Linked DNA regions of Homo sapiens: region 1 is linked to region 2. The links come from fine-mapping of genetic effects on gene expression. A gene starts in region 2. The other region holds a variant in brackets. All regions are shown on one strand. Distances are from middle to middle.

The links. PIP is the estimated chance that this variant, and not a neighbour inherited with it, causes the effect.
Region 1: its variant is fine-mapped to the expression of MEP1A in nasal epithelium (TOPMed, PIP above 0.99).

The regions. Positions count from the first base shown.
Region 1 is chr6:46,755,846-46,761,238 of GRCh38, reverse strand. ANKRD66 (ankyrin repeat domain 66) reads right to left here. Exons shown (of 5, transcript NM_001162435.3): 5 at 1,733-2,516. The coding sequence ends at 2,318. Among named protein-coding and RNA genes, the nearest start is that of ANKRD66, 12 kb to the right of the region's middle. The variant C/G (reference allele first, on the strand shown) is at 2,535.
Region 2 is chr6:46,790,789-46,796,181 of GRCh38, reverse strand. MEP1A (meprin A subunit alpha) reads right to left here and starts at 2,793. Exons shown (of 14, transcript NM_005588.3): 1 at 2,715-2,793; 2 at 2,606-2,630; 3 at 2,466-2,516. The coding sequence starts at 2,783.

The DNA.
Region 1 (5,393 bases), 35 kb after region 2:
CCCACACCTTGTTGAGGACATTGTACTAAGTAGCTAACATGTATTATCTCATTTGATCCTCACCACAACCCTATGACATAGGTGCTGGTATGATCTCCCTGTTTACAGAAGAGGAAACTTGAGAAGTTAAGCAACCTGCCAAAGGTCTTAGAGCCTGAAAGATTAGCCCATCGACCAAATCCAGCCAGGCTTTACAGCCAGCACAAACATCGGTCAGGTGGCCTAGGGCAAGTCATTCAACCTCTCAGAACTTCAGTTTGTGATGTCAGTTGGGGATAATGATACTTGCCTTGCAGGTATGTCATGCAGATTAGATACAATCCATGTAAAGCACTTAGTATAGAGTCTATGTTGCATTAAATTATTCATACAGAGAAGCTATTTTAGCATTCTCTTCCTGTTGTTCTCACTTACTACCTAAAAACTTGTGGGAGAAGACATAAGTCTCTTTATATCTCAATGAGAATAAGTATGAAATGAGGGCACAATGAGGGCACTGGGAGGCCATAGGGTTGTGGACACAACCAAAGACACTTTGCTTATCACAGTTTTGTCCAGCTGATGGAGGACAGGCTATTATCCATGCCACAAAACTAGATGGGATATTTATGGACTGGACAATAAAGAGCCTCATGTGACCTATAAAAGGCATTATTCCTGGATCCCTTTGGGATTCCCAGGGGAAAACTGAGTTCACTTCTATAGTAATACAACAGTCATGACATAAACCAGTTATAGTGTGCCAATGTCAGCATCTTACACACATTGTCCATCTCATCCTCACAGCAACCCCAGGAAATGGGAATTCTTTTACCTATTTCCGTAGAGGAGGATACAAACCTAAGTCACCATTACTCATAAGCCCATGATTAAAATACTGTACTTATTAGAAAAGTCTGCTTGCAAGGAAAATAATCAATTCAATATACTGTAAGCAAAGGGCAACTTTTATGATAAAATAGTATTTCACAGATTCCTGAGTAAGGAACCAGAACTAGGAATAGCAAATTATCTAACTATTCATCTCTATCTATCTATCTATCTATCTATCTATCTATCTATCTAATCTCTCTATTCATTTATCTACTGACCTATCTCTATCCCTTTGTCTTTTCCTCGGTCTTCTTGTCCTTTTTGTAGAGCATCTCTGTACCCTTCCTCAGCCCTAGTGTAGAATTAGCCACTCCATACTTCTGAAGTCATCTGCTATTGGTCCAGCCTATCATGAGGATTTCTTTTCAAGTACCCAGGAGAAGAATCTTATTAGTCCAGCTCGAGTCAGTTGTCTTCCAATGTTTCTACTGGTCCAAAGCAGGAACTACTCTGCATTGCAGAGCATAGAGAAAGGGATTGATGCTCAAGGGTAGATCAACACGAGGAAAGGTATCCTCTATAGCTATACTGCTTTTCTATAAGATATTCAAGCATTTTTTTCATACCAGAAAATTCAAACAAAGCATGACTTGTATTAACACAAGCATTAATTGAGGAATAAGTAATAAAGATACTTGATAGCTAAATAAATTGATTTAGGCAGAGAAATTAGTATATCTAAAATGCAGAGCAGCCAGGGAAAGTAAAATACACCAGACTAGTCTCCTAGTAGAGGCTTAACATGCTGTTTGGGTTCTATAGCAATGCTGTCCAATAGAAATAAACTAAAAAAGCACATGGGTAATTTTAAACATTCTAGTAGCCACATGTTTTAAAAAGGAAAAGGAAAAAGATAAAATTCATTTTGGTAATATATCTTATTCAACGCAATATCCAAAATATTATCATTTCAATGTGGAATCAATATTAAGTATTATTAAGGAGACATTTTATATTTTTGTACTAAGTGTTTGAAATCTAATGTGTATTTTGCATCTCAATTTGGATGCAATTTTTTATTGGAATTATCTGATCTGAATTTAATTTTCCCAAATTTACAGTTGAAAAAGTAGACCTATAATCACATGTTCATTATTTTACATTATCTCTCGATCGTTATCAGGGATGAAGTTAATTCATGCCAGAGTTTCCTTGTCTCCTGAAATTCTATTATTGTTGGGGGGCAGGGGTCAAAAGATGCTGACTGTGCAAACCACTGATGACAAAATGCAAGCAGGTTTTGTCCTTTCCCGGTAATTATTGTACACAGTAGGTGCTAGCCAGGAAACAACAGCCCATGTGGACAGCACCTAATGACAGGTCCATGGGCAGAAGCCAGGTGGGTAAGGGTCTATGAGTAAAGTCATGGAAAGGCCACCATGCCTAACAGCCTCATTTCTGGCACCAGGGAAAGTTCCTTGCCAGAAAACATAAGGTTGAGTTCTCATACTCTCCTCCCCTTGGTATTGCTGGGCCTGGTGGGGCCTCGACTTTTCTTATTCTTTTTATTCATGTTTTGATTTAGGGAAGGAAGAGACAGCTCCAGCTCCCTTTTCTTGGCATCCCAGTCTTCATCACGCTCATCCAGAGGCAGCCCCTTCTGCTGGGCAGCGCAACGGTGGTCCTGGCACTCGGGCTCTGCCCTAGGAAAGAAGAGAGAG[C/G]CTTCTGAACTTGGATCAGGAGGACCTGTTCCAGCCTGGGAATCGGCCTTTATTCACAGGTTCTGCACACCGCAGTTCAGTTGAGAAGGAAGGAGGCCAAGTTTGAGCATTTCCAAGCATACACTTAGGGAAGGTCTCAGACACTAAAGAAACTACTTGGAGGTGGAGAAAAATTGTGGGACCCGAGTGAGATGTTAACAGACTCAAAGATAGTCACTCAGCTTGAAGAAAATGCTCCTGATTCTTGAAGTGCTCACATTTATAGAGCAACCTGCAGATTATTGCGAGACTGTTTTCGTTTATTTTTAGTTTTATTTTTCATAATCATAAAAGTGATGTGTGTTCCTTGTATAAAATTTAAAAGTACAGAAACATATAAGGAACAAAATGAGAATCACTCACAATCACATATGTATTATACGTATGTATGGATTCTGTAAAAATACATATAATTGTAAATGGATACATGGATGGATAAATAAATAGAGCATTATACACACATAGACAATGGGAAATACACACATATACAGTTTTGTATGAGGCCAATGGTGAGTATGTGACTTGCTTAAAGGTACTTGGAAAAGTCACTTTTGAACCAATATGAGGACAAATGGAATTTAAGAGGATAGATAATGGTATAGGGAAGGCAAATAGCATTTTAAGTGCAAACCATTATTAAAAGCACAGTTCATTCAAAGGACAGCAAACTCACTAGTCCCTCACCCTAAGCTGGAAGTGACCTTTCAATCTTCAGACCACACCATGTCTTTCCTCTGCCTAGTCACTCTCTGTCTTGTATTAGTGTTATTTATGTAAACAAGTTATTTCGTCTCCCACACAGTTAACCTTCTTGATGTCCAGCACTGTATCTGGTTTATTTTAGGTTGTTTTTAGTGTCTAACTCAATGACATACACATAGTAGAACTCAAAAATATTTGCTAAATGAGAGGTTTATCACTTGGGGGGCTGAATCAAAAGCTGAATTGTTTCACAACATTCCCTAGGATATTCAGAAAATGATCACATATGGTCTAGGCTTCTTTTGAAGTTCTCTTATATCCTTTATCTTCATCACCTAGCCCAGGAGCCAACTTACTCAAAATGTGAATCAATAAGAAATTCCTTAAGTGATCCCCTTGCCTAAAGTCTAGCAGTCTTCAATCCCACGCAGTACCACTGCCAACTCCTCTACTACACAAATAAATTGCTAATGCATCTGTTTCAGCTTGTGACTCCCCTGATGAGCTCACACTCTTCTGCTTGCCTAGTTCACTGTGGTCACCCACCCCGTCACCTGACCTTATGCTCCATTCCTCTCTAGTGTGAATGCTCTGCCTAGCCAGGCCACTCATCCCTGCACTCCACTATCCCTCACCTTCTCACATATACACACAACCTATGCACATTTCCAAGTTGGTGCCTTCACTCTAAATCAACAGTTTTTCTCCCTCCTTCATTAGCCAGCTAGCTTTCAAGATCCAGGTTAATCCCCCCTTAATTCAGGATTCTTCTCCCTAAACGCTCTGTCAGGGAAGTTCTTAGTGGGAGCTGATAATAAGTAGAAATGACTCACACGTGATGTGACTGACCTTTATTGTTTTTGCTGGCTCAACACTGTCTGCCTACTTTTCTTGGTAATAGCACTCCCCACTATTTGGAGGCAAGCACCCCTCCTGCATTTCAGTTATGCTGGGATCATATTTCATGTTGATCCCTGGTCACTAGGGAGGGGCTGGGATTACTTAGAGAGAGTCAGTAGAGGACAGCCAAGGGCAGGACCCTAAGGAATGTCAGCATTTAAAAGGCACGCAAGAACATATCATAAGATTTATTCTTAGAAAAAGCACATTTTAAAAGTCATAAGGAATTATCAGAGAAGTAGAAGAAAAACTAAAAGAGAATAGCATCAGATAAAACAAGGGAGAAGAGTTTCAGGAATATTAAATACCGAATTAAGTGGAGGTAAGATGTGAATTGAGAAGAGGCAATTGATTTAGCGTGAGGAGCTCCCTAATGACTTGAGTGACAGCTGATTCAGTATGGGGATCAGGGAAGAAGTCTGAAGCGTGGGTGAGAGGTGAAGAAGTGGAGACAATTACATAGATTAGTTTCCTCAAATTTAATGTTTCAAAGAAGTACAACTATCATGATTAATACTGCTATATTATATGTTAAAGTTCCAAGGCTATATAAAACTATCAAGTAATATCAGTAAGCGTTCCTATCATAATATTCAAGCAAATGAAATAACGTTGCCTTTTTGAGAGAAAAACATATTTTGAAACTTTTACAAGCAGACATAAAGACAGTTGACATTTCCAAAAAGGCACACGTAATTTATGAAAATCTATTACATTCCAAATTTAGTACAAACTCAAAGCTGATCTAATTCTGATACTTAAAATGCACCTCTCTCCTTTGGCTGAAAATGAAATAACAAACCCTTCCAATTAACAGACATTTAAAACCTACTCAATTTGATTGCTAACAAGTCAGAGGAAGGACATGTTGTCCTTCCCCAAGATTTTAGGACCTAATGTTTACCATGATCTTAGATCTTGCAAATACAAACTACTAAAGAAGTCAGGCGTTTCTTGATTTATATAGAGTCAAAATTCTATTCCCCTGGGGAGAAGAAAGAGAAGGTAGTTGTTTAATGGGTGTGGAGTTTCAGTTTTACAAGATGAAAAAGTTCTGGAGCTCTGTTTCACAACAATGTAAATGTGCATAACACTGATGAACTGTACACTTTAGAAACAGTTAATATGGTAAATTTTATGAGTTTTTCATCACAATAAAAATACAGAAAACTATTCAAAAATTATATTTTTTACACAAGTTATTACTATAAAACATGT
Region 2 (5,393 bases):
TTAAGTCTGGGGTGAGGCCTGAGAATGTTCATTCCTAACAAGTTTCCTGGTGATGCCGATGCTGCTGGCTTGGGGACAACACATCGAAAATCACTTCCTTAGAGGAGTAGCTGTGCAGTCAGGGTGGCTGGAAAGCTCAAGTAGGAAGGGGAAGAGTAGTCAGGGGCAGATTGACTCACACTCTGATGTGCATAGAAACCACTTGGGTCTGTCAAAATGAAGATGCTAATTCTGTAGGTCTGGGGTGGATCCTCAAATGCTGCATTTCTAAGAGAAAGCTCTTGAGTGACACAGATCACTTTGGCCTGTGGACCACACTTTGGGAATCAAGGCTCTAGGGCCTTTACTTTATGTTGAAGGAGAAGTCATTAGATGGTTGGAGCAGAGAAATGACATGATCTGAAGGATATTAAAAGGAGAGCTCTATGTTGTGCAGAATAGTCTTTAGGGAGCAAAGGCAGAAAGGGAAGCACAGTTATGAGGCCTGTCAAAGGACCAGCCCAGACATGAGGTGGCTGACCAAGGTAGGGGCAGTAAAAGTGCTGAAAAGTCTCAACTGTAGTATGATTTGAAAGTAGATCTAGGCCAGGCGTGGTGGCTCATGCCTGTAATCTCAGCACTTTGGGAGGCTAAGGTGGGCGGATCACAAGGTCTTGAGTTCAAGACCAGCCTAGCCAACATAGAGAAACCCCATCTCTACTAAAAATAGAAAAACTAGCCTGGCATGGTGGTGGGCACCTATAATCCCAGCTACTCGGGAGGCTGAGGCAGGAGACTCGCTTGAACCCAGGAGGCGGAGGTTGCAGTGAGCCGAGATGGCACCACTGCACTCGAGCCTGGGTGACATAGCAACACTCCATCTCAGGAGAAAAGAAAAGAAAAGAGAAAAAAGAAAAGTAGATCGAGTAGATCGAATAACATTTGCTGACAGATTGTGTGTCAGGTGTGAGAGAAAAGCAAGAGTTAGGGGCAACTCTAACATTCTGAGCCGAAAATCTAGAAGGAGTGAGTCACATTTACTGAAATGAAAAGGACTGAGAGGAGCAGGTCTTGGGATGGAGGATAAGAAACGTTTACTCAGCCTTGTGAGGCAAAAAGAAGATGGTAAAAAGGTGGCAATTTTCTCTATATGATTTTCCCAATTTATGGTGTTAGAATCTGGCCATATGGCTAACCCAATCAATCCTGGTGGTTTGGTTGAAATGGCCTAAAAAGAAGATTTACATGGTAATGAGATTTCTCCACTGGGGTCAAGGATCAGAGGTGGTGGTGGGCCTAAAGAGTACAAAATGGCAAAGAGGTAAATAATTAATTTTTATTAGATAAATAATGATGAGATTAGAAAAACTCTAATTCTAATCCCATTTCTGTTGTAAAATACAGCAGATTCTCTGAACTGTTTACACAATGGCTAACTCTAAAGAGAGATATTTTAGTGCCTGGCTCTGAAGTCTTGGGACCCATTTATGCATTCACCCATTTACCTTCCTAAACTATTTCTGCTCTGCCTATGCAGCCATTCTCCAGCTATTCCAATTAAATATCAACTAACTGGCTTCTCTGTGAGTGAGACAAAGCCAGAAAAATTGACCCTTAGTTATTGGTATGTTAGTTTTGTAGCCTTCAGATAGCACTGAGCTATTAAGGTATGGGCTACAAGATCTGGAAGTAAGCCCCATCACTGCTACCTATGATCTTGAGCAAGTCACTCTACCCATGAGAAGCCACCTGTCGCTTCCCAAAAAAATGAAAACAGCACTTACTCCACGACAAGACTGGACAAATAAATATGCAATTGCATATAAAAGCTTTTGTAAACTGAAGGTACTTATTATCATGAATAGCTCTGCTTCCACAAATCCTGACCTAAGACACTGGGAATGCAGAGGCTTCTCTCTCATTTCAGAAGCAGGACAACAGAGAGAAAACAGAGATGATGACTCAGCTTCTCTCTCCTCTCAGTAATGGATGAGACTGATGAATTTCTTCAAGAAATATATTTGTAAATGAGATGTCTAAGTGGAGATTGCTTTACACTCACCCCTAAGTCTCAACCGAGGAGTTGTTAGTGAATATGATGGGCCAGTGGAGGGGTTGGGTTTTGTTTCCCCACTAAATATAACCAGAGGCTTATTCTTATATTTTTCTTTAACAATCGGAATAATTATCTATTTGCTTTCCTTTTCCTCCAAATACAAATTGGAAAAATAAAATTTTTATAAAGAGAAACTTGTTACATATTTCTAGATCCATTGAGGACTTCCTAGCTCTCCTAGAAAGTCTGGTCTAACTATCTTCTCTTTCCGCATTTTTATCTTTCAGAAAATGCAATTTCTCACAAAGCACCAAAAAATATTTCTCCCCCAGAGAATCACAATACAGTATTAGGAAGGAAAGTGTTCAGTAATCCCACCACTGGGTTTCAAGTAATTTCAAGACTTTAATAACACAAAAATTGAACTCACCTAAATTGATTTCTGAAATATCCTTCTGTTCACCAAAATCTGCATCATGTACTGTTAAAAGTGAGAAAAAAAATTATTATTAGTCTTGCCGAAGGAAAAAAGTTCAAAAACACTCTCTGTGCATTTGAACTAATTCTTACCATTTTCTTCAGGAAGATACTTAATCTGAAAAAAATAAATATACAGAAAATGGATAATGTATACTAGAATTAATATTTCTAAATATCCAAAAAGCAGGACTCGACTTACCGGTACAGCTGCTATGTGGGCAAAAAGCAAGGTAAAAAAGAGAATGCAAGTGGATCTAATCCAAGCCATTGCTGCAAGTGAGCTGATTTTAGCACACACCTTGTCATAAATACCGTTTAGACTTTACCCTGACGGTCGTATTAGAAACTTTGACCCTTCCATATGTACCGTAGTGCCAATAAAGGTTGTCAAAGATAACATCATTGACTCTTTCGAGGACAAACACTAAGTTTACCTTAAATGCTTAAGCTCCAAAGACTGGGGAAAAGTTTGAAAAATTAATACGGAAATGAGCATATAAGAACTAATAACATTCCTATAGGGCAGCCATAGCCATTCATATCATAAAACAGGATAGACGATCCCCTTAACAATAAAAATAAAAATAATTTATAAAATTATTATTATTTAATTCTAATAAAATATAAATTCAAATTTTATGGAAATGTTATAAAGCAATTATTGAAGGACATAAAAATACCTGACTCTCTCTCTATATGTACATATGTATGAAATATTAATAGATTGTTTTAATATTAATCTATAAATTCATTGTCATTCTAGTAAAAAATCTAACAGGGTTTTCAGTGGAACTTGCCAAGCTGACAAATGGTTCAATTCGCATGAAAGAGTAAACATTGAAGAATAGATAAGAAAATTCTGAAAAGGCTGAATAAAGAGAAAAGAATTGCCTCAAAAGAATATCAGGAGCTTTGGTAAAGTTACAGTAATTAGAGTGTAATAGTTCCAAAAATAAAGATAAAATGAATCTATAGACTGGAATAGGTAATATCCAAATAGATGCAAGCATATGCAGGGCTTTTATGTATAAGAGGAACCAAAAAGGCAAGAGGGAAACTTGGGTCTCTTTCATAATAATGTGGGAATAATTGCATTTCCATATGAGGAAATACATTAAATGTACACCTGATACCATTGACAAAAATAAATTCTAGATAGATTAAAAATTTAAATATGAAAATATAAACTTCAAAAAAGAAAATATAGGAACATATTTTTAACCTTTAGGTCAAGAAAGATTGCTTAAACATGAAAAAAACATAGAAATTACAGAGGAAAAGAATAATACATTTGACTGTATCAAAATTTAAACTTCTTTATGACAAAAACATAACATGATTAAAAGACAAGCCACAGGTGAGAGATGATATGTATACTGCATATAATTGAATAAGAATAAGTATTCAGGATATGTAAAGAATTTCTACAAATCAATAAAAAGAACAGGAGATTATCTAAGGAAAAAATGAACAAAAAATATGAGTAGCAAATTCACAAAAGACCCAGATGGCCAATAAATATGTAAAAAGATTTTTAGCCTCGTAAGTAATCAGAAAAATTATAGGTTCAAATAGCAGTAAAATACCACCTCAAGCTAAGATTGGCATAAATTAAGAAGACTGACAATATCAAGTGTCAACAAGAAGGTAAGAAAATAGGAAATCTAGTAGGACATCAATTTGATGCTATCTAATGAAGTTGAAATGTGCACAGTTCATAAGATAGAAACTTCACTTCTAGGTCTATATGCTAAAGGAACTCACACATATGTGCACAAAATTCCACATAGCATATTCATTGAAGTTTTTTTGTTATGGTAAAGAATGGGGAAAATGTGTTTATACTAAAAGAAAAGATAAATTATGGAATATATTCAGCCATGCACAGGTAAATGTTTAATAATCGGCTCTTTTAAAAAAAGTAAAAACAAACAAGCAAACAAACAAAACCAAGCCTTTATTTGTAGTGTTTGTTGATTGCCATGGTCAATTTCAAGCTACCAACACCATGTCACTGAATGCAGTGTTGGGAAGAGATGTACACAGTGGGCTCCATCTGCGCCAGCACAATACTAAATATATGCACACACCCACCTATTCTTGCCTGCACCAGATATAAGAATCTTTGGCATTAGAGCAATCTTCAAGGTCTAGAGCCTGCATCTCTCTACCTCAGACTTACTACTGGGCAGGTGGGCTAGTCCTGCTGTCAAAAAAGCATTTCCTGTCACAAAAGACTTTTAGAAGGTGAACAGTAGAGCTTCTTGAGCTGTAAAATAGGAGGCATGTCAACTGGGGGCCTGCTTCTGATGGGCAGAAGCGTTCTATGGCTGATTTTTGTTTTACCTAAGCCACTGATGGTGAGGTGATAAAAGGCCATCTTCCACCGTCTCTAACCATTACAAACCACTAATATTATTTTTTAAACGAAACAAAACAAAACAAAAAGCCAAATTTGCCCAACAGCCGCAATGACTTAAGTGAGCAACTACAATCTAGACCATTTAAAAATTGGGCAATAATCAAATTTTAAAACTGGCCAACATCGTAAGAATAATTGGCTTTAAGTATCAGTGTGGAAAACATATGAGACTTTTATTTCTTAAATGTGTTGTTTAATTTTTCTCAAATTCTGAAGCAATTATGGTAAAACTGAATATTTGGTAAAACTGAATATTTGTTAATCTTGGAAACCAGGAAGTAGGAGTTTGTTATTTTATTTTCTAAAGAAAAAGGCAGTGCTGTTGCTTTGGTACACCTCTCTACTAAATCTCAGGTATCAGGATTTCAAACAGGGAATAGTGAGGCTGTTTAATTCTCTCCACCTTCTCTTGCTTCCAGCCAGATGTGTTTTTATCTTTCCCTGCCTTCTTAAACT